Homo sapiens: one gene and its partners. The protein of the gene in region 1 interacts with the protein of each later gene in a biochemical or structural test. Each region holds a gene or a part of one and is shown on either strand. Other genes may lie near its edges. The genes, in order: MAP3K5, PPP5C, TNFAIP8L1 and TPD52L2.

What was found.
Region 2: of the proteins of MAP3K5 (region 1) and PPP5C, one has a biochemical effect on the other in vitro, tested with the Homo sapiens proteins (one study listed by BioGRID).
Region 3: the proteins of MAP3K5 (region 1) and TNFAIP8L1 form a complex in vitro, tested with the Homo sapiens proteins (one study listed by BioGRID).
Region 4: the proteins of MAP3K5 (region 1) and TPD52L2 form a complex in vitro, tested with the Homo sapiens proteins (one study listed by BioGRID).

What each region holds. Positions count from the first base shown.
Region 1 is NC_000006.12:136,693,853-136,699,738, reverse strand, and holds part of MAP3K5 (mitogen-activated protein kinase kinase kinase 5), read left to right. Parts: intron 1-1,056; coding exon 1,057-1,250; intron 1,251-2,351; coding exon 2,352-2,520; intron 2,521-3,681; coding exon 3,682-3,788; intron 3,789-5,428; coding exon 5,429-5,599; intron 5,600-5,886. UniProt on the Homo sapiens protein: Serine/threonine kinase which acts as an essential component of the MAP kinase signal transduction pathway. Plays an important role in the cascades of cellular responses evoked by changes in the environment.
Region 2 is NC_000019.10:46,384,342-46,389,921, reverse strand, and holds part of PPP5C (serine/threonine-protein phosphatase 5), read right to left. Parts: intron 5,119-5,580; coding exon 5,013-5,118; intron 2,830-5,012; coding exon 2,687-2,829; intron 2,557-2,686; coding exon 2,469-2,556; intron 1,515-2,468; coding exon 1,474-1,514; intron 1,370-1,473; coding exon 1,191-1,369; intron 1-1,190. UniProt on the Homo sapiens protein: Serine/threonine-protein phosphatase that dephosphorylates a myriad of proteins involved in different signaling pathways including the kinases CSNK1E, ASK1/MAP3K5, PRKDC and RAF1, the nuclear receptors NR3C1, PPARG, ESR1 and ESR2, SMAD proteins and TAU/MAPT.
Region 3 is NC_000019.10:4,641,411-4,647,296, forward strand, and holds part of TNFAIP8L1 (tumor necrosis factor alpha-induced protein 8-like protein 1), read left to right. Parts: intron 1-5,886. UniProt on the Homo sapiens protein: Acts as a negative regulator of mTOR activity.
Region 4 is NC_000020.11:63,867,157-63,873,042, reverse strand, and holds part of TPD52L2 (tumor protein D54), read right to left. Parts: intron 3,748-5,886; coding exon 3,602-3,747; intron 1-3,601.

The DNA of each region.
Region 1 (5,886 bases):
AACTTTGCATTTAATTCCCTTCCCTGAGCTTCGAGCTCCAGTCAGATTTGCTTACTCAGGGTATCCAACTCACTTTCCACTTTCATCCCTGCTCTGCTTTTGTTTGCACCAGTTTATCCTCGCTTGGGCATCATCCAGGAACCAAGAGAAGGTCAGTGAGCCCAGGCTGTAGTGGGCGAGGGGAGAGTGGCAGGGCTGAGGTTAGAGAGGGGCAGGATCTGCGTAGTCAGGCCCTTGTACGTTGCATTGCAATTTCTTCTTTCTCCCAAGAGCAAGAGATGGGGCTTTAAGCAGCTGTGGGAAGTGATCTGAGGGACAGTGTTGAAAGATCACTCTGATGGCAGAGTGGAGAGTAAATTAGAGGACAAGAGTGGAAGCAGGGGGACCAGTTAAAGCTGATGGCAGTGGCTCAGGCCAGGTCCATTGGTGCATGGACTAAAGTGTTGGCCGAGAAGATGGAGGGAAATGGACAAATATGACATTATATTTTGGAGGCAGGACAGATGGGACTTCGATAGGATGTGGAAGGGGAAGGGAATGGAAGCATCAAGGGTAACTTCTGGGCCTGTAGTTTTAGTAGTGGGGAGACAGAGAGAGAGCAGCCTCCCGGGGGGTGGATTTGAGCGGGATCTACTTGCGGCATCACCTTACATGTAGGAAGCCCTTCAAATGTGAGCTTGTAGCATTTTCATATGTGTATGCTGCGCCCTGTGACTAAATTATAAGTTCCCTGAAAGCTGAAGGCCATGCTTTAAACTACTTTTTCCAACAGCAATAACTTAGTGCCCTAGCCTTGAAAGATGGTGAATAAATATTAAATTGATGGATAGAAACTGTTCCACTCTTTTTTTGGTATCATCTGTAAGTCCTAATTATTTGAAGTATGCAGTGAAAGGAATTGGGGAAATTTTCATTGTCGTAGGTCATAAATAAATAATGAGGCTTTTCTATTTCCCTTTGCATTTGGAATTATTTAAAATGAGTAAGACGTGGGATTCCATCTGTGCCGTGTCTCCAGGCCAGCTCCCCACTTGCCGATGCCTCCTCTCTCCGCAGATGTGCACTGGGAACTACACCTTTGTTCCTTACATGATAACTCCACATAACAAAGTCTACTGCTGTGACAGCAGCTTCATGAAGGGGTTGACAGAGCTCATGCAACCGAACTTCGAGCTGCTTCTTGGACCCATCTGCTTACCTCTTGTGGATCGTTTTATTCAACTTTTGAAGGTGGCACAAGCAAGTTCTAGGTAAAGTTTAATTAATAATGCCATTTGGTGATGACAATAAAGTGTTATTCTACATCTTTATTTGTGCATGATATCAGGTGCTCCTGAGATATCAGTATACAGCTAAGAACTAGGGGGAAAATGTTTATTATCCTCCAAGTAGATAAAATAGATGCCACATAATACATTTTATTCACAGAACAGCAACTTGAAATCAGCAAAAAATTAAAAAGTCTACTAACCGCTTTATAGTGATGGTAGAACTAAAAATATATACAAAGCAAGTACAGAAACAATACCAGGATAAATGTCCAGGGACTTCTAGTGTAAGGGCAAGAACAATTCAACTTTAATTAACTCTTAACTCTAATTGTTCTTTCAGTGAAGAACAATTATTTATGTTAATAAATGATAGGCTGAGTCAGGAAGTTAAGGTTATATTATGTTCAAATCATAGGTACATCACGGCCAGTGCCGTGGCTCATGCCTGTAATCCCAGCATTTTGGGAGGCCGAGGTGGGCAGATCACTTGAGATCAGGAGTTCGAGACCAGCCTGGCCAACATGCCGAAACCCTGTCTCTACCAAAAATACAAAAATTAGCCAGGTGTGGTGGTGCACACCTGTAATCCCAGCTACTCACAAGGCTGAGGCAAGAGAATTGCTTGAACCCAGGAGATGGAGGTTGCAGTGAGCCAAGATCATGCCAGTATACTCTAGTCTGGGCAACAGAGTGAGACTCTGTCTCAAAAACAAAAACAACAAACAAACAAAAAATCATAGGTACATCTAATTTATTTAGAACAATTTGTACTGGAAACAGTAAAATGGAAAACAAAGTTTTGGCATTTTAAGTGGTTTTTTGCAGGAAAATTTATTAATATGGAGTACCTTTACCTTTAATTCTTTCTGAAGGCAGAGTAATAAAAGAAATACATTGGCTTCTAAATTTCTTAATAATGCCAGATATGTAAGATATTTATTTAGGCATCTGAATGAACTGAAAACTACAAATGCTTTATAGCTAATGCTGCAATATCATTCATGTCTTTATTAAAATTATTGCTTTTCATTGAAATTGTTTCTAATGTCAAACTCTTTGAAATGTGTGTGTTTTTACCAGCCAGTACTTCCGGGAATCTATACTCAATGACATCAGGAAAGCTCGTAATTTATACACTGGTAAAGAATTGGCAGCTGAGTTGGCAAGAATTCGGCAGCGAGTAGATAATATCGAAGTCTTGACAGCAGATATTGTCATAAATCTGTTACTTTCCTACAGAGATATCCAGGTGAGAAGATGTTTAAAGTGAAATCTTTGTTGTGTAGCATGTTGGAGGGATAAGGGAGTATTAACCTCAAATTTCAGTTTGCTGGTAAGCAGTTCATGTTACTACACGTAATTTTTTATTGACTCTCTTAAGCTTTCCATCCTATAATTTTATGATGAATGAAAAAGACTCATGTGAGTTAACCATCAGTGATTGTGAAAGACTTGTATGGTAAAGGCCTGACTTTTTCCTCCAAAAGAACAAAAAGAAAAATCTGCTGGCACAGCGAACCTGTGGACACAGTCTATTCTACTGTTAGCCTCAGGCACACCTGTCAGTGAAAGCTTTGTTTTGGCAAATAGCAGACATTTTTAGAGCTTTCTGGACATACCTTTTATCCCTTGAAATTGTATTGCTTGAAATTGATAGTGCTGAATCTAACTCGCCTGAAGGAAAAAATATGTAATTGATTACCTACAGAAATAACTTTAAAAATATGTAATGTAAAACACACTAACAGGTTATATCATTTTTATTGACATGTCTTAAAATTTTAAAAATAGGGTAAGTGGAATAAAATCCTCTCCAAGTTAGGGATTTGCTCTTAGGTTTTAATAGTAAAATTTAAATGACATCTGGTTTCTCCTTTCCATTCCTAGCCTTTCAGGTCTGTGTAAAGGCTTCATGTGCTCAAGACAGACTCACATCCATGGAGGGCTGTGGCACATAGGATCCTGTGGCTAGAGTGCTTACTCATGTGACATGAAACTGTGTTGCTACTTGTAACAGAAGTTCAACCCATTGCCTCATGTCCTTGACATTTTTATTTCCCTGAAATTGTTAGAACACTGCATACCGGGAATCTGGCTCTATGGGGAAATAAATCACCCATATTTAGACAGTAGAGCACTATCATGCTTGGTGTTTTTGTTTCTTTTGCTTTTTTAGTTTTTGTTCAACATGGTAACTGTATGTTTCTAATGTTTTTATATATACGATCTAAACCTTTTAGAAGAAAAACAACAAAAACTGTTTATTCTAGGTTCTTCAAAGTGTTCTGTGGATTCTAGTGTCTTTTTAATGTGTTTCTTGAATTCAGATATCTGGTTGTCAAAAGACACGTTATTGTGAGAATTTTCTCCTAATGGTTTAATTCTGTGCTATTCTCATCTAATTTGAAAGGACTATGATTCTATTGTGAAGCTGGTAGAGACTTTAGAAAAACTGCCAACCTTTGATTTGGCCTCCCATCACCATGTGAAGTTTCATTATGCATTTGCACTGAATAGGTAAGAAGAAAAAGTTCCCTTCCAGAATGCGTTAACATATTATTGTGTAACCTGCAATTCTTTACAGAGAATGTGTTCACTGCAGCATTGCAAGAAGTCCCTATTAAAATGTAATATTAGCATATCTGCTTCAGCCCCATGAAATATAGGAAGCATGCATTCTCATTTTTTTCTGATTTATTTTTCAGTAAAAAAAAAGTCGCACACTGTTGGTATATTTAAATTCTTACAGGTTTTCTGCTCTGTCAAAGTTTGTATTTGCTATTCATATTTTTTAGAATTGTAAAAGTTACATGAATATGATGTTATCTTTAAGCAAATACACTCAACACCAGATGGTCATTCACACAAAAGTTTTCACTAGAGTAAGGATGGTTATGTCTAGGTGAACATAGTGTTAGATAGTTATTACCAAGGATAAAAAGGAATTTCTTGGACAGAAGATTTGAAGTAGTAATTGAGAATAGAAATGATACCTTTTTTATAATAGCTTTATTGAAACATATTTCACAGGCTGGGCGTGGTGGCTCACTCCTGCAATCCTAGCACTTTGAGAGGCCAAGGTGGTCGGATTGCCTGAGCTCAGGAGTTCGAGAGCAGCCTGGGCAACACGGTGAAACCCCGTCTCTACTAAAATACAAAAAAATTAGCCAGGTGTGGCAGTGTGCACCTGTAGTTCCGGCTACTCGGGAGGCTGAGGCAGGAGAATCGCTTGAACCTGGGAGGCAGAAGTTGCAGTGAGCCAAGATCATGCCACTGCCCTCCAGCCTGGGCAACAGAGCAAGACTCTGTCTCCAAACAAACAAACTAAATATATTTCATCAAAACAATAAATTTTAAAACATTTTCATCACTCCACAAGGAAACCCTGTACCCATTAGCAGCCCCCCTTCCATTTCCCTCCCAAATCCCCCAACTCTAGGCAACCACGAATCTACTTTCAGTCTTTACAGATTTGCCTATTCTGGACATTTCATATAAATGGAATCATACAGTATGTGGTCCCTTGTGACTGACCTCTTTCACTTAGCATAATATTTTCAAGGTCTAAGGAATGATAACTCTTATAGAATTTTTATCTGGTTTTGTGAACTGTCTACACATACTATTTTAAAGCATGCTACATAAAGCAACTTCCTTAGATAATCAGTTAGTCACACGTAGAAATCAAGCAGTTCTTGGGTTTGATTTGATTTTTGGTATCATCTGTGAATGAGTTTGCTAAGTTTTGGAGCAAAAGCCATTGAAACCTAAGGTCAGGGTTTTGTCCCTACTTGGCTTTATTTACTCTACCCTATTCAAAGACACAGACTACAACTCTAATCTCGTTTCACCAACTTGAACCTGCATATAGGCTGCAGGGAAATTGGAAGGATTGTGGATGAGTAAGTACAAATCCATCACCATTATTAACACAGAAACTCAAAAGAAATCCTTGTTAGACCTAGTAGACATACAATGGGATAAAACAAAAAATTAGGCTTAGGACAGAGGTTTACAGAGGACTCTCAAAATCTAATTGTTTCTGTCCTGGCAAATTTCTCTAATATGAATCAACATGTTAAATAGGGTTTTTAAAAAAGAATTGATCTATATTGCTTCTGTAATGTATATTGAAACAACAATGTTTTCTGCCTTAGGAGAAATCTCCCTGGTGACAGAGCAAAAGCTCTTGATATTATGATTCCCATGGTGCAAAGCGAAGGACAAGTTGCTTCAGATATGTATTGCCTAGTTGGTCGAATCTACAAAGATATGTTTTTGGACTCTAATTTCACGGACACTGAAAGCAGAGACCATGGAGCTTCTTGGTAAGTAAATAGTATATAAATGAGCTACTTACTTAGTAAATCCATGGCATAAAAAAGTATTTGCAAATGAGAGTGTTAAAGTATTATTATAATCCATAAGATTGTGTATTATGAACTAAACCTTAGATTTTATTTTATTTTATTTTATTTTTGAGATGGAGTCTTGTTCTGTTGCCCAGGCTGGAGTGCAGTCATGTGATCTTAGCTCACTGCAACCTCTGCCTCCCAGGTTCAAGCGATTCTCCTGCCTCAGCCTCTCCAGTAACTGGGATTACAGGTGCCCGCCA
Region 2 (5,580 bases), on another chromosome or scaffold:
ACAGAGAGACAGAGATGGGAAAGACGAATCCAGGGGAAAGAATGGGAGGGGCAGGAGGATGGGGATGGGGAAAAGAGGGTGGGAGTGCAGGAAGCAGGAGCAGGAAGGGGCAGGGCATAGCTCATGGAGGTGGATGCTCGCCAGACCCCACTAGGAATCTGACCACGCTTCTAGCTTTGCCCACCCAGAGATGCAGGGAACAGAGGAACATGTCACACGGCACCACGGGGATGCAGTCAGCCTAGTCCAGGACACAGGTGACTCGTACAGCAGGCAGCAACCTATTCTTCAACAAATAAATGATGCGGGTGGGGAGAGACAGGGAACTCACAGGCAAAGAGACTGAAAATGTGGTCCTTGTTTAGGTCCTGTCTGGAAGAAGTCAGCTGGAAAAGACACTTAGGAGAGACCAGGAGAAAGAGAACTTGGCAGGATTCGGGTGGGGGCAAGGGATCAACACTGTGTGTGTGTGTGTGTGTGTGTGTGTGTGTGTGTGTGTGTGTGTGTGTGTGTGTGTGTGTGTGTGTGTGTGTGTGTGTGTGTGTGTGTGTGTGTGTGTTTTGAGATGGAGTCTTACTCTTGCCCGTGTGCGTGTGTTTTGAGATGGAGTCTTACTCTTCCCCAGGCTGGAGTGCAGTGGTGCAATCTCAGCTCACTGCAACCTCTACCTCCCGGGTTCGAACAATTCTCCTGACTCAGCCTCCTGAGTAGCTGGGATTACGGGTGTGTGCCACCACGCCCTGCTAATTTTTGTATTTTTAGTAGAGATGGGGTTTCACCATGTTGGCCAGGCTGGTCTCAAACTCCTGACCTCAGGTGATCCGCCCACCTCGGCCTCCCAAAGTGCTGGGATTATAGGCGTGAGCCACCATGCCCAGCCAGCACTCAAAAGTGTAAACACGATATTGTGGTTAAGAAAAAGATCCCTTTCCTTCTGAAAAGTGCTGGGCAATCAGTGGGAGAAAGGTGAAGTGCCAGGGGCTTGCTGTAACACAGGGCAGCTGGTCAGCACTCACAGGCTGGCCCCACTGGTGCTGCATGGGTGGGTGACACATACGGGGGTGTTCGTCATGTTCTTTTATCTGCTCTTGCCTGTCTTTGAAATGTTCCATCATAAAAAGGCAAAACAAAAACCAAGACAAAAACCCGTGGCTTGGTAGAGGCCCTGGGCTGGAAAGGCAAAGACATACCAGTAGTTGGGGGCAGAGAAGACGGTGACACAGCGGCCTCCGTGAGCCACCTCGTAGCCCTCGGCCTTGACTTCGTGGCTGCGGATGATATAGTCCAGGTTGTTCTCTTCCAAGAAGGCCTTGGTGACGTCAGGCCCAAACTGACAGCTCACGCCCCGCTTGCTGATCGAGCGCCCGTTCTGAGGGTGGGCAGAAGGGAGAGACAGGGGTTCAGGGTGACTGTCTGCCTCCACCTGCTGCCACAGCCCACACCCGCCGGCCCTGCACCCCACCCTAGACTCACCTGTGGCTGTGGATCTGACCAGAGCAGGTCACACATGGGCCCTGGTGGGGAGCGAGGGAAACATTAGGGACTCGTCCACCTCCCCGGGGGTGGTCACTCACAGGCCACCTCCTGGCCCGGCCAGGTGCTGACCCCACAGCCCAGCCTGGGTGGGTGTTGGGCAGGGGACATCCAGCATGGACATGGACATTCAGGACAGGTGACTGTGATTCTGAGCCACCCCCACCCTCTCTGCTGATCTGCCCTCCAGACCCCATTCAATCCCCTGTGGCCCCGAAGCCAGATAGAGCTTTCAATGTCACTATTCAGATCAGGCCCCTCTCCCACTCAAAGCCTTTGGTGGCTCCGCACTGCCCTAGGAACAAAGTTCCTCACTGGGGCCTGTAAAGCGCCATAGGATTTGGGCCCAGTGAACCCCATGTCCAATGTCAGCCCTCAAAGCACAGCCCTGCCCACTCGCCAACTTCTCCCTGCCTTAGGACCCCTCCTCAAGCCTGGAATATGCTCGCCAGGCTCTGTGCACGGCAGATGCCTCTGCTTCCCGCAGTGTCAGCTCAAACCTCGCCTCCCTGGAGAGGCCTTCCTGAGCACCCAGCACCAGCCCACCCAATCCATGTCCTCTGCAGCACTCACAGTGTGCACGTGCGTGTGCACCTGTGGGTGAACTCTCTGAAGTGTGCCCGTCACTAGCACAGGAGCCCCAAGACCTCCCCTCCTTCCAGGGTTCCACAGCTGAACTCACAAATAAATAAGGACAGGTGTGCTCGGCGGTCACCGTGCCTTCACCCCGCACCATGGTCACGACCGTGCTTGCCATCACAGCCCCATGAAGGAGGTGCACTGGCCCAAGTCGCAGGTGAGGAAACTGAGGCTCAGACCCGCTGTTTCTTGCCAAGGGCACAAAGCCCATCCTCCGAGGCAGGGCTGGGTTGCAGGGGAGAGCTCAGCCCAGGCTGCCCCTTTCTGCTGGAGACACCTGGCCCCGCGCTGCTCACCTGAATCTGGGGGTTGTCGATTCCGCTCAATTTTCCGGATGTCATCCAGGGTGACACCGTCTTCACTGAACAGGCCTCCGTGCATGATCTGGGGAGATGGGGGATGCCGCTGTGAGGGAAGGTGCCACCCACCCACAGGCCCCAACTTCCTTCACCAGCACATCTGCCCAGGTGTGGCTGGGTGGGGAACCCACACTCAGGGCTCGCGCCGTCCTCACCAGCACTTTGCCGTTGATGCACTGGGCCAACGGGAGCCACTCGAACACCTCGCTAAAGAGCTCGTACATCTGGGCTGTGTACTTGGCCTTCACCTCACCCTCGAAACCGTAGATCTGGTTCATGTTGTCTGTCTCGTGGTTGCCTGGCCAACACGGGGACAGAAGAGAAAGCTCAGCCTCCAGGTACATCAGTGTCCTCCAGCCTGGCACCCTCAAGGCCCAGAACTGTGCATGCGTCCCTTGCCCCCATGGGCCTCGCACTTGCCACTGCGGTGCCTTCCAGACTGGAGGTACCAAGGGGGGAATCTTGACAAAAAGTAGGTCCATGGCTAAGCACCATGGCTCACGCCTATAATTCCAGCACTTTGGGAAGCCAAGGCAGAACTGCTTGAGCCCAGCAATTTGAGACCAGCCTGGGCAATATACTGAGACCTCTCTATAAAACAATTTTAAAAATTAGCTGGGCATGGTGGTGCGTGCCTATAGTGCCAGCTACTTGGGAGGCTGAGGCCAGAGGATCACTTGAGCCCACGAAGCAGAGGCTGCAGTGAGCTATGCTCATGCTACTGCACTCCAGCCTGGGCAACAGAGCAAAGCAAGACCGTCTCAAAACCAAAAAGTAGGCCCATCTACAGAACATGTGCCCCAGCCCACCCCACCCTGAGCTCCATCCTTCTGTCTCAGACACAAGCACCCGGCCTCCTTCTTCCCTTCCAGAGCTTGGGGGCAAGGAGAAGGCTGCCCAGTCTCGCATCTGCTCAGACTCTGCTTGTCTGACTTCTCGGCCTGAGCACTTGTTGCCTCCTGCAACGAGGCCCACAGTCGGGCTTCCTGAGCTTTGACCCTGTGCTGGACACTGCTGCGTGAACCCTGTGAGCCCAGGGACACGGGCATGCAGGCTTCGCCCCAGCCTATCACTCACCTCCCAACTCACCCCGGCCCCGCCATGGGCAGGGCCTCCCCTGTGTGGCCCTCACATCCCAGTGAGCTCCTCTTGTCTAATCTCATCTGGACACCAAGAAACCTACATTTTCAACACCCCTTGGAACCCCACCCACATCCCATGTCTCCTGAGTCTCAGCCACATCCAAAGGGGAGCTCCTCAGCTCCTGGCCACACCCTGCTCTACATGTTCCCGTCTTCGTCACTGGCAGCCATAGCCCTCCAGATACTCCGGCCAAAACCCTAGAGGGCCCCTTTCGTTCCCTCTTTGTCTCACACCTGTGTCTGTTCCTCCAGCAAATACTCTGGGCTCTACTTCCAAGTTTCTTACTTTTTTTTTTTTTTTCAAAGAGACAGGGTCTTGCTCTGTTGCCCACGCTGGAGTGCAGCGGTGTGATCATGGCTCACTGCAGCCTTACACTCCTGGGCTCAAGCAATCCTTCCACTTTGGCCACCCAAGAAGCTGGGACTACGGGTGCACGGTGCCACCATGCCTGGCTTTTTTTTTTTTTTTTAGACTGAGTCTCACTCTATCGACTAGGCTGGAGTGCAGTGGCGCAATCTCGGCTCATTGCAACATGTGCCTCCTGGGTTCAAGCGATTCTCCTGCCTCAGCCTCCCAGGCAGCTGGGATTACAGGCGTGTACCACCATGCCCGGCTAATTTTTGTATTTTTAGTAGAGACGGGGTTTCACCACATTGGACAGGCTGGTTTCGAACTCTTGACCTCAGATGATCCACCTGCCTTGGCCTCCCAAAATGCTGGGATTACAGGCATGAGCCACTGCGCCTGGCCTTTTTAAAAAATGTTTACTGGAGACAAAGTCTCACTGTGTTGCCCAGGCTGGTCTCAAACTCCTGGGCTGAAGTGATCCTCCTACCTGGGCCTTCCAAAGTGCTGGGATTACAGGTGTGAACCAGCACACTCAGCTCCGGGCTCTACTTCAATCAAGAGAACCCAAATCTGACACCAAGCCTGAATCTGAGGGGGCACAACTGCCTCGTCAACAGTCTCCTTACTCCCACCCTCGAGCCCTGGTCTGTTCACTCAGTCACTCAGCTTTAGTGCCAGATTTAGGGCCACCCAGGAGCCTGTTTCATGCCCTTGTGCAAATTAGAATAAGGGGCCCATCCTCACACCCTTGTTTGCCATCTGCTGAAAAATGGTCAGAGTAAACATCCATTTCTACACTATCTATGATGTAAACGCGTCCTTTGGTGTGATGCTTTTGTGCAGTGCACTACATACTCAATCTTAAAAGGTCGCCCTGTGCATGATCTCCGAGTCCACAAAATAAATACAGCTGCAACTATTATCCTTGCAGAGTGAGTGCCCCACTCAGGACCCCACAATGAACCCAAACCTTGTCACTTCCCAGCTCACCTCGAAGGAGGTGAAAGTGATCTGGGTACAGGAGCTTGAAGCCGAAAAGGGTGAGGATCACTTCTACAGAGAAGGAGCCTCGGTCCACAAAGTCACCATTAAATATCTGTCCTGCTGAGGAAAACATGGCAAGCGTGGAGGGGAAGGGTGCGGTGCGGTGGGGTTGGGGGTGGTGGCAGAAGATGGGCCAGATGGGCTGCTCCTGCCTGGCCTCAAGCCTCCTGTCAGCACCTCCCAGGGAGTGAGGACTTGGCAGGGCTCAAGGGATCTGGGTTTCTAATCCTTTCCTCACCGTGGCTCCAGCCAGAGCTTGGCCGCTGAGCCTCAGTAGTATGGCACTGAGGACCCTGCCTCCTGTCTCCCGGAAAGCCAGTGGCGGGGAGGTGCGGGGACTAGTCAGTCCACCTCCTTCAGCTCTCCTCAGAGAGGCCTGGAGCCATGGGGGAGATGGGACACGGGCCCTCCCACTCAACAATGCATAGGCCTAGTGGCCCTACAAGTGGCCGTTCATCGAGCAGATACCATAACACGGGGAAATACTTAGATAGCATCAGGTGTGGGCCAGGCC
Region 3 (5,886 bases), on another chromosome or scaffold:
AGGGCAAGGAGGCAGAGCGAGAGGCAGGAACGGCCCAGTTCCACAGCATGCCTGCCCCTTCCCAGCATCTCCCGACACCCCTCAGCAGATGACCTCCCTGGAATCACACCCGCTCGAGCTTTGACGCAGGGACCTCTGGCAGAGTTCTTGGGATCTTGTAAATCCCCAGCTTCTAGGCCTCAGTTTCCCCATCTGTCCAATGGGGCTGGTCATCTCCTTTTTCTTGTGGGGCTGAGATAACTGTGGGGAGGGAGGGTGCTTTGAGGGGTGGGGGAGATTCAACAAGATATTGTTAAAAGCCCGAGGAGGGGATTACAGGACACAGTACTTCTAGAAGCTTCCTAAGGCTTCGATCCTTCCCCTCTGGGGTGGGCTCTGGGAGAGACGAGACTTGAACCCCAAATGTGCCATTGACTAGGATGAGGAAAGGATTGCACTAGGTTAAAGGCTGGGTTCAAATTCTGATTCTGCCACATCACTGCTTTATAAACAGGCAAGCTCCTGACCCTCTGTGACTCAGTTTCCTTATAACCAAAAACTTGCAGGTCCATCTAGAGAATTTCCCAGCCTGGGCAACATGGTGAAACCCTGTCTCTACTTAAAACAAAGAAAAAAAAATTAGCCAGGTGTGGTGTCGCAGGCCTGTAGTCCCAGCCACTCTGGAGGCTGAGGTGGGAGGATCACCTGAGCCCAGGGAGGTTGAGGCTGCAGTGAGCCGAGCTCATGCCACTGCACTTCAGCCTGGGCGACAGGAGTGAAACCCTGTCTCAAAGAAAAAGAAGAGAATTGGCTGGGCGCCGTGGCTCACGCCTGTAATCCCAGCACTTTGGGAGGCTGAGGTGGCCGGATCACCTGAGGTCAGGAATTCGAGACCAGCCTGGCCAAGAGGGCAAAACCCTGTCTCTACTAAAAATACAAAAATGAGGCGGGCGTGGTGGTGGGTGCCTGTAATCCAGCTACTCAGGAGGCTGAGGCAGGAGAAACACTTAAACCCAAGAGGCAGAGGTTGCAGTGAGCCGAGATTGCACCACTGCTCTCCAGCCTGGGTTGACAGAGTGTGAGACTCCATCTCAAAAAAAAAAAAAAAATTAAAAATATACACATAAAATAAATAAAATAGATGGGGGATCTGGGAGGGCTTCCTGAGGAGGGGCCATGTAAACCCAGACCTGGATGACAAGAAGGAAACAGCCATGTGGAGACCTGGGAGAAGAGCAGCTCAGGCAGAGGGCACAGGTTGTGTAAAGGCCCTGGGGCAAGATGGCGCCTGGCATGGTAGAGGAGCAGCAAGGAGGCCCGTGGGGCTGGAGCAGTGAGGAGGAGGAGAGAGGGAGGAGGGGAGGGCAGGGAGGGGACAGGGCAGGGTGCGCAGGATCTTATGGGCTGCCAGGAATACTTGGCTTTGACCCCAAGGGAGGTGGGAGCCATGGAGGGTGGTGGGCAGGGGAAGGATGGAACCTGACTCAGGTACTCACAGGCACCCATTGGCTGCTACAGGGAGGACAGACGGGGGGCATGGGGATAGATGGTGCTGAGGGACGAGGGGACCAGGATGGAGGCTGTGGGGGAGATAAGAAGTGGGTTGCGTTAGGCCAGGCAGGGTGGCTCATGTAATCCCAGCACTTTGGGAGGCTGAGGCAAGTGGATCACCTGAGGTCAGGAGTTGGAGACCAGCCTGACCAACATGGTGAAACCCCATCTCTACTAAAAATACAAAAATTACCCAGGCATGGTGGCACGTGTCTGTAATACCAGCTACTCAGGAAGCTGAGGCAGGAGAATCACCTGAACCCAGGAGGCGGAGGTTGCAGTGAGCCGAGATCACGCCGCTGCACTCCAGCCTGGGCAACAGAGTGAGACTCTGTCTCAAAAAAAAAAAAAAAGTGGGTTGCATTGGGACACATTTAGGGGCTGGATGCACCTCCTGCCAGGTGATCCTAGGCTTCTCTGCACTCTAATAATTTATTGCTTGGGCTGAGGCAAGCCTGTCCCCTCCTCTGCAGAGTCATGGGCTGTGGGTAGCTGATAATTCATGTTTGGCCCTCGAACCCTTTCTCCAGTGGAAATCTGGCCACAGTGGAAAGTGTCCAGGCTCCCCGCCACAACCCAGCAGGCAGCTGGCCCCTGCCCATCCATGGGGTGGTCCTGAGGGTGCTGGGGAACCCAGTTTGAGAACAACTGATGTCACCCCCAACTTGGGCCAACAGATTCCCCTCTCTCTTTTGCCATAACTAAAATGGACACTGGCGAAGTATGGCGGCTCATGCCTGTAATCCTAGCATTCTGGGAGGCCGAAGCAGGAGGATCGCTTGAGCCCAGGAGGAGACCAGCCTGGCCAACATGGCAAAACCCCATCTCTACTAAAAATACAAAACTTAGCCAGGCATGGTGGCAGGTGCCTGTAATCCCAGCTATTTGGGAGGCTGAGGCAGGAGAATTGCTTGAACTGGAGAGGTGGAGGTTGCAGTGGGCTGAGATCGCGCAACAGAGCGAGACTCCATCTCAAAAAATAAATAAATAATAAAATTGGCCGTTCACGGTGGCTTATGCCTGTAATCCCAGCACTTTGGGTGGCCGAGGCGGGTGGATCACCTGAGGTCAGGAATTCGAGACCAGCCTGACCAACATGGAGAAAACCCCGTCTCTACTAAAAATACAAAATTAACCGGGCGTGGTGGCGCATGCCTGTAATCCCAGCTACTTGGGAGGCTGAGGCAGGAGAATCACTTGAACCCAGGAGGCAGAGGTTGCAGTGAGCTGAGATCATGCCATTGCACTCCAGCCTGGGCAACAAGAGTGAAACTCCGTCTCAAAAAAATAAAATAAAAATAAAATAAAATGGACACTGGCCAAGTGTGGCAGCTCACGCCTGCAATCCCAGCACTTTGGGAGGTCAAGGCGGGAGGATCACTTGAGCCCAGGAGTTCGAGACTAGCCTGGGCAACATAGCAAGACGCCATGTCTACCAAAAAAAAAAAAAAAAAATTAACCAGGCATGGTGGCACATACCTGTAGTCCCAGCTACTCAGGAGGCTGAGGTGGGAGGATCACTTGAGCCCAGGAGGTCGAGGCTATAGTGAGCTATAATGGTACCACTGCACTCCAGCCTGGGCAACAGAGTAAGACCTTGTCTTAAAAAAAAAATGAATAAATAAAAATAAAATGGACACCGGCTTGCAAGTCCTGAGTCATGGATTTTTTTTTTTTTTTTTTTTTTTTTGAGATAGAGTCTCACTCTGTTTCTCAGGCTGGAATGAAGTGGAGCTCACTGCAACCTCTGCCCCCCAGGTTCATGCGAGTCTCGTGACGCAGCCTCCCGAGTAGCTGGGATTACAGGCGTGTGCCACACACGGCTAATTTTTGTATTTTTAGTAGAGATGGGGTTTCACCATGTTGGCCAGGCTGGTCTTGGACTCCCGACCTAAGGTGATCTGCCCGCCTCGACCTCCCAAAGTGCTGGGATTACAGGCATGAGCCACCACGCCCAGCCTGTGAGTCATGGGTCTTAAAGGGCTTGGTGCAGTGGGACCCTGGGAGTCGGTGGGATGAGGCCTGGGATCACTGGCCTCGGCGGGAAGAGGCCTGAGGCCCCCCCTGGGCCCCCGGACTGAGTGCAGCCGGGGCTGAGACAAGACAGATGGAGCGGCTGGCGTGCACCTGCAGAGCAGATCCATCAATTATTGACACTCTGTGAGGTGCATGAAGAATTCATGGGACAGGGGTGGGGACGGCAGGGACTTGTGACATAATTGCAGCCAGCTCACCAGAGCCACCTCCTGTGTTTTCAGGAATTTTGCCATCTGGTAGTTAAACGCAGCCATTATTTAACGTGGGAGAATATAAACTTATAGTTAAGGCTGGGCGTGGTGGCTCCCACCTGTAATCCCAGCAGTTTGGGAGGCCGAGGCGAGTAGATCACTTGAGGCCGGGAGTTAGAGACCAGCCTGGCCGACATGGCCAAACCCCGTCTCTACTAAAAATACACAAATTTGTATTTTTGTACAAATACAAATACACCAGCTGGGTGTGGTGGCATGCACCTGTAGTCCTAGCTACTTGGGAGGCTGAGGCTGAGGCAGGAGAATCGCTTGAATCCGGGAGGCAGAGGTTGCAGTGAGCTGAGATTTGGCCACTGCACTCCAGCCTGGGAGACAGAGCAAGACTCCATCTCAAAATACATACAAACATACATACATACATAAACTTATAGTTAAATAAAGTACATTTAAGCCAGGGGTGGTAGCTCACACCTGTAGTCCCAGCACTTTGGGAGGCTGAGGCAGGAGGATCCGTCTCAAAAAAAAAAAAAAAAAGGAATATAGGGAGCAGGGGAAGAGTCAAGGGAGCCAGGGAGTTGGTGCCTGGTCACCCATTTTGCAGATGGGAAAGCTGCCCCCATGCATGGGGCCTGCCAAGGGTCACAGCAGGGAGACCTCAGAGCTGTGGACGGACCTGGACAGAGGCTGTGGACAGGGCTGAGGCCTCCTGGCTGTTCCTGTAACAAGCGTGACACAGCCCTGCCCCAGGGCCTTTGCACAGGCTGTGCCCTTTGCCTGGAGCATCTTCCCGCAGACCCTGTCATTGCAGGCCCAGTTCAACTGGCCCAGCCTCTCCCTAGAGAGGCCCTCCTGGTTACCCTGAACTTCATCCCCCACCCCCGTGGCCCATATCTCTCTTCCTGAAATTAACTTGTTTGTTTCTATTTATTGGTTACCGGCACCTCCTCCTTCCAGCAGGGGAACAGTTTTTGCACCCAGGCTGGAGTGCAGTGGAACAATCTCGACTCCCTGCAACCTCCGCCTCCCAGGTTCAAGCGGTTCTCCTGCCTCAGTCTCCCGAGTAGCTGGAATTACAGGTGCTCGCCACCACGCCCGGCCGACTTTTTTTTTTTTTTTCAGTTGAGTCCGGGTCTCACTATGTTGGCCAGGCTAGTCTTGAACTCCTGGCCTCAATTGATCCTCCTCCCTCTGCCTCCCAAACTGCTGGGATTACAGTTATGAGCCACCGCACCTGGCCAATCATTGTTTTAAAGTGTACAATTTATAACCAGAAAGTTATGTGACCATCATAAATTTCTGGAATCTCTAATTCCAGAACATTCCATTACCACTCACCCCAAAAAAACCTGGTTCCCAATTTAGCAATCGCTTTCCATTTTCCCCTCTTCCAGTTTCCAGCACCCGCGAGTCCGCTTTCTGCCCTTGTGGACAGGCCTCTCCTGAACATTTTTTTTTTTTTGAGATGGAGTCTCGCTCTGTCACCCAGGCTGGAGTACAGTGACGTGATCTTGGCTCACTGCAAGCTCCGCCTCCCGGGTTCACGCCATTCTCCTGCCTCAGCCTCCCGAGTAGCCAGGATTACAGGTGCCCGCCACCGCGCCCCGCTAATTTTTTGTATTTTTAGTAGAGACGGGGTTTCACCGTGTTAGCCAGGATGGTCTCGATCTCCTGACCTTGTGATCCGCCCGCCTCGGCCTCCCAAAGTGCTGGGATTGCAGGCGTGAGCCGGTGCCCGGCCCTTCCTGAACATTTCATAGAAGTGGGATCACACACTTTGTGGCCTTGTGTGTCTGGCTTCTGTCACTGGGAATGATGTCCTCAAGGTGCATCCACGCTGGAGCTTGTGTGTGAGCCTCGTTCCTTTTATGGCTAGAGAACATTCCATTGTTTGGACCGATCTCATTTTGTTTATTCATTCACCCATTAATGGACATACGGACATTTGAGTTGCTTCCACTTGCAGGCTACCCTGGGTCACGCCGCTGTAAACTGTGACGTGCAAAACAAGTGTTTGCGTGGTGTATGCTTGTGTTTCTCTTGGGTAGATCCCCCAAAGTGGAATTGCTGGGTCCTATGGTAACTGTGTGTTTAGATGTCTGAGGAGCCG
Region 4 (5,886 bases), on another chromosome or scaffold:
ACTGGGCATGGTATTAAAAAGGTGAAGACCGGCCGGGCGCAGTGGCGCATGCCTGTAATCCCAGCACTCTGGGAGGCCAAGGCGGGCGGATCACGAGGTCAGGAGATCGAGACCATCCTGGCTAACACAGTTAACACAGCGAAACCCTGTCTCTACTAAAAAATACAAAAAATTAGCCAGGCACGGTGGCGGGCACCTGTAGTCCCAGCTACTCGGGAGGCTGAGGCAGGAGAATGGTGTGAATCCAGGAGGCAGAGCTTGCGGGTGAGCCAAGATTGTGCCACTGCACTCCAGCCTGGGTGACAGAGCGAGACTCCATCTCAAACAAAACAAAACAACAACAACAAAAAAATGGTGAAGACCCTGGCCGGGCACAGTGGCTCACGCCTGTAATCCCAGCACTTTGTGAGGCCAAGGCAGGCAGATTATCTGAGGTCAGGAGTTTGAGACCAGCCTGGCCAACATGACAAAACCCCGTCTCTACTAAAAATACAAAAATTAGCCAGGTATGGTGGTGCACGCCTGTAACCCCAGCTACTCGGGAGGCTGAGGCAGGAAAACTGTTTGAACCCAGGAGACAGAGGTTGCAGTGAGCCGAGATCATGCCACTGCACTCCAGCCTAGGTGACAGACCGAGACTGTTTCAAAAACAAACAAACAAACAAAAAACAGTGAGGATCCTTTTCCCTCAGGGCTCTCAGTCTGGGCTTGGACAATAGAAGCTGGAACTGTTGGCAGCCGGGCACCGTCTGCACTCATAGAATTCCATATGCAGAGAGGAGGAGGCAGATGGACAGTGACACAGGTGACAGAAAAAAACACCCTTAAGAAAACACTTGTGTTCCTGAGGTCAGTTCCAAACCTTGGCAAGAGTCAGTTACACGAACCAAAAGGTAAATTATCTTTTGTGCTTAACGTAGTTAGAACTGAGCAACAGAAAGATTCCTGATCATGAAGACTTGAACTTTCTCAGGTCTTTAAAAAAAAAAAAAAAAAAAAAGAACATGACCTCTGAAAGGGGCATCATTCAAAGCTTTACCACTTTAGAATGAGTTCTCAGTATCTTCAGCTCATATATGACTAGCTTCTCTTTAAAAATTCTCTTTCTTGGCCGGGTACGATAGCTCATGCCTGTAATCCCAGCACTTTGGGAGGCCGAGGCGGGCAGATCACCTGAGGTCAGGAGTCCGAGACCAGCCTGACCAATATGATGAAAGGCCGTCTCTACCAAAAATACAAAAATTAGCCAGGCGTGGTGGCATGCACCTGTAACCCCAGGTACTCGGGAGGCTGAGACAGGAGAATCACTTGAACCTGGGAGGCAGAGGCTGCAGTGAGCCAAGATCGCACCATTCCACTCCAGCCTGGGCAACAAGAGCAAAAAGTCTCAAAAAAAAAAAAAAACTCTTTCTTGCGTGTAATCCCAGCACTATGGGAGGCTGAGGCAGGCAGATTACCTGAGGTCTGGAGTTCGAGACCAACCTGGCCAACGTGGTGAAACTCCGTCTCTACTAAAAATACAAAAATTAGCCAGGCATGGTGCTGTGCGCCTGTAATCCCAGCTACTCGGGAGGCTGAGGCAAGAGAATCACTTCAACTCAGGAGGTGGAGGCTGCAGTGAGCCCAGATCACGCCACTGCACTCCAGCCTGGGCGACAGAGTGAGACTCCGTCCTTAAAAAAAAAAAAATTCTCTTTCTTGGCTGGGTACAGCGGCTCGCATTTGTAATCCTAGCACTTCGGGAGGCTGAGCCAGGTGGAGCTCTTGAGACTCGGAGTTCGGGACCAGCCTGGCCAACATGGTGAAACTCTGTCTCTACTAAAAATACAAAAATTAGCCAGGTGTGGTGGCAGGCGTCTGTAATCCCACCTACTTGGGAGGCTGAGGCATGAAAATCACTTGAACCAGGGAGGCAGAGGCTCCAGTGAGCTGAGATCACGCCACTGCACTCTAGCCTGGGCGACAGAGCAAGACTCTGTCTCAAGAAAAACAACAAAAAAAAGCAATACAGAACTTCACCTTGTAGGGGCCGGGCACAGTGGCTCACACCTGTAATCCCAGCACTCTGGGAGGCCAAGGTGGGTGGATCACAAGATCAGGAGTTTGAGATCAGCCTGGCCAACATGGTGAAACTCTGTCTCTACTAAAAATACGAAAATTAGATGGGCAGGGAGGCACGCGCCTGTAATCCCAGATATTCGGGAGGCTGAGGCAGGAGAATCGCTTGAACCTGGGAGGCGGAGATTGCAGCGAGCCGAGATCACACCATTGCACTCCAGCCTGGGCGACAGGGCGAGACTCTGTCTCCAAAAAAAAAAAACAAACCCCATCTCGACTAAAAACACAAAAAAATTAGCCGGGCGTGGTGGTGGGCGCCTGTAGTCCCAGCTACTCAGGAGGCTGAGGCAGGAGAATGGCGTGAACCCGGGTGTTGGAGGTTGCAGTGAGCCGAGATTGCGCCACTGCACTCCAGCCTGGGCGGCAGAGACTCCGACTCAAAAAAAAAAAAAAAAAAAAAAAAACTTCACCTTATTGTAATTCAACTCTGAAAAAAACCTTGTGGATTTAGTTTCTAAACTCACATATTCTGAAGTTAAATGGAAAGCAAAGTGTCCTTGGACTTCCTGCTACTCTCCTTTAATCTTCTAGGCTAGAAATAGCTGTGTGATGTCCTCAGGATCTGAAACCTGGTCCTCAGACTCAGCGGCACAACCAACCTTACTCAGACCTAGGCCTGGACCCAGATTCTGGAATTAAACCACATCACAGGGTGAAAAGAAAACTCTTGGCAGTTGGTTTGACTAAAAATTATGGTTGGAGGCTTTTGTTCTTAATTCCTACATTACTCTTAAGGGACTCTCACTTAAAGAAGATCACATAAATACTTTTTAGAAAAGAAGTTTTTGTTTTGTTTTTGAGACAGGGTCTCGCCCTGTCACCCAGGCTGCTGTGCAGGATGCAATCACAGCTCACTGAAGCCTTGACCTCCTGGCCTCAAGCAATCCTCTCACCTCAGCCTCCTGAGTAGCTGGGACTACAGGCACATGCCACCACACCTGGCTAATTTTTGGGGGTAGAGACAAGGTCTCACTGTGTTGCCCAGGCTGCTCTCAAACTCCTGGGCTCAAGTGATCTTCCCACCTTACCACCCTGTCCTCCTAAGGCGCTGGAATTACAGGCATGAGCCACTGCATCCAGCCAAAATAAATATGTTTAAAAGAAAACTTAAGATCCAGGACAAGAAAGATTCATGGGGTCTTAAAAATGATTATCAAGTGTTAATTCCAACAGAGACACTCCCAGCAGATGGCTGCTCAGAGGCGGTTCATGTGTGAACACTCCTCAGGGAGCACTTAGGAAGGGCCAGGCACAGAGGTATGGGAAGGGAGTCATGCCCTGTCTCCACTGCCAGGTGGCTCTGAGTCCAGTGCATGGAGCTGGGCACATACAAAGAGAACCCCGTTATCAGTCGGAACACAGAGCAGGGTAGGTGACCACCCAGGGCAATTCCTCCCGAGCGTGGCCAGTACCCTGGCCTCTCACTAATCCAAGAGGGCCTTAACTCCAATTCACCCCAGGACAGACAGCCAAGCCACAGCACCTTGGTAAGCTCAGCCCTGAGCTCCTCCTCCTCAGCCTCTGTCAGACCCTCAACAGCAGGAGTCCGGGCAGCCACACCTGTGTCGACAGGAACATCCGTCATGGAGTCAGACAGCAGACCTTTGTTAGGAGAATTCAGGTTGATATCTGCCAGAGACAAAATGAGGCCACAAAGTGTCAAATAAGTTAGTTCCAAGTAAATACGGTAGAGGTCTCTAGCAGGACAAAAGCACAGGTGGGAGTGGGTGAGACCCTGGAGACTAACACCTCTTCTCTGAAAGGTCTGTGAGGACAGCATGGGCAGTAGACGAGGGCAGCCACACCTCAGACCACCTGAGCTGAAAAGCCAATGCCACTTGTGCTGCTTCAGGGCACGACAAATGCCGGCCCAAGGCAGGCAAACCCGAATTCTGGCTTCCCAGTGAGAATACTATCGTCAGAGGCAGGAAACCCTTGCTACAGAGAAAGCAGCTCAATCTAACAGACCTTCCACCTTTTTTTTTTGATGGAGTCTCACTCTGCCTCCCAAGCTGGAGTGCAATGGTGCGATCTCAGCTCACTGCAACCTCCGTCTCCCGGGTTCAAGTGATTCTCCTGTCTCAGCCTTCGAGTAGCTGGGATTACAGGCGCACGCCACCACGCTGGCTATTTTTGTATTTTCAGTAGAGACGGGGTTTCGTCATGTCGGCCAGGCTGGTCTCCAATTCCCGACCTCGGGTGATCCGCCCGCCTTGGCCTCCCAAAGTGTTGGGATTACAGGTGTGAGCCACCATACCCTGACAAATTTCCACTTTTTTTAAAAAAAGGAACCTAATATGGTTAATATACACAATAAGCATCACTTTCCTCTCAACACATCTGACAGAGCACATGCTAAAATTACGTACTAGGAGCACATGCTGCTCATTCAGCTCCTTCAGGGAGGCAGCAAAACAAAATTCCCTTTACTTACCTCCCGATTCTCATCCCACTGCCAGAAGGCCGCCAGCAGGCAGAGAGGTGCAGAGCGGTGTGCTGCCACCACACACCTCAACTACACCCAGATCACATTCAAATTCCTGCAGCCACTGTTTTTTCTTCATGTCAAATGCATCTTCCTGACTACCCTAAAAGTCTACAAGATTTCACATAAAGAAAAACAGTCTATTTCGATTCTCTCCAAATCCAAGCACATGACTATTGTAACACTTTCCCTGTTGACCAAAACATTCTGAAAAGAAACAGGCTTACTGCCAGGCGCAGTGGCTCATGCCTATAATCCCAGCACTTTTGGAGGCCGAGGCAGGTGGATCACATGAGGTCAGGAGTTCGAGACCAGCTTGACCAAAATGGTGAAACCCCGTCTCTACTAAAAATACAAAATTAGTTAGCGTGGTGGCACGCGCCTGTAGTTCCCAGCTACTTGGGAGGCTGAGGCAGGAGAATCACTTGAACCCGGGAGATTACAGGCGTTGAGCCACCACGCGCGGCCAAAAAAAAATTCTTTAAAAAAAAAAAGAAAAACTGGTCGGGCGGGGTGGCTCATGCCGGTAATCCCAGCACTTTGGGAGGCTGAGGCGGGCGGATCACCTGAGGTCAGGAGTTCAAGACCAGCCTGGCCAATATGGTGAAACCCCGTCTCTTTTTTTTGAGACTGTCTCAAAAAAAAAAAACAAAAGAAAAGAAAAAGAAAAAAAAACTATGCCTTTTAAAAGACAACACAAAGACACCAGATTAAATGCACTTAACAAAGATACTCTTCTTAAAAGCTGGCTGCATCTCACTCCCTTCAAATGTCCCATAGGACTGGAGCCGTGTGCACTTCCTTGGCGCTCCACAAACGCTTACTAAACGAAGCGTATCCACTTTTTTATCCACTGATTCTCTTTTTTTTTTTTTTAGACGAGTCTTACTCTGTCACCCAGGCTGGAGTGCAGTGGCACGATCTCCGCTCACTGCAACCTCCACCTCCTGGGTTCAATCGATTCTCCTGCCTCAGCCTCCCAAGTAGCTGGGACTACAGGAGCACACCACCATGCCCGGTTAATTTTTTTATTTTTAGTAGAGACGGGGTTTTGGCACGTTGGTTAGGCTGGTCTCAAACTCCTGACCTCAAGTGATCCACTGGCCTCGGCCTCCCAATGTGTTAGAATTACAGGCGTAAGCCACCGAGCCCAGCCTTTCTGTTCTATTTAAAAAAAGACAAATGAGGCTGGGCACAATGGCTCACACCTGTAATCCCAGCACTTTTGGAGGCCAAGGCGGGCAGATCACCTGAGGTCAGAAGTTCGAGACCAGCTTGACCAA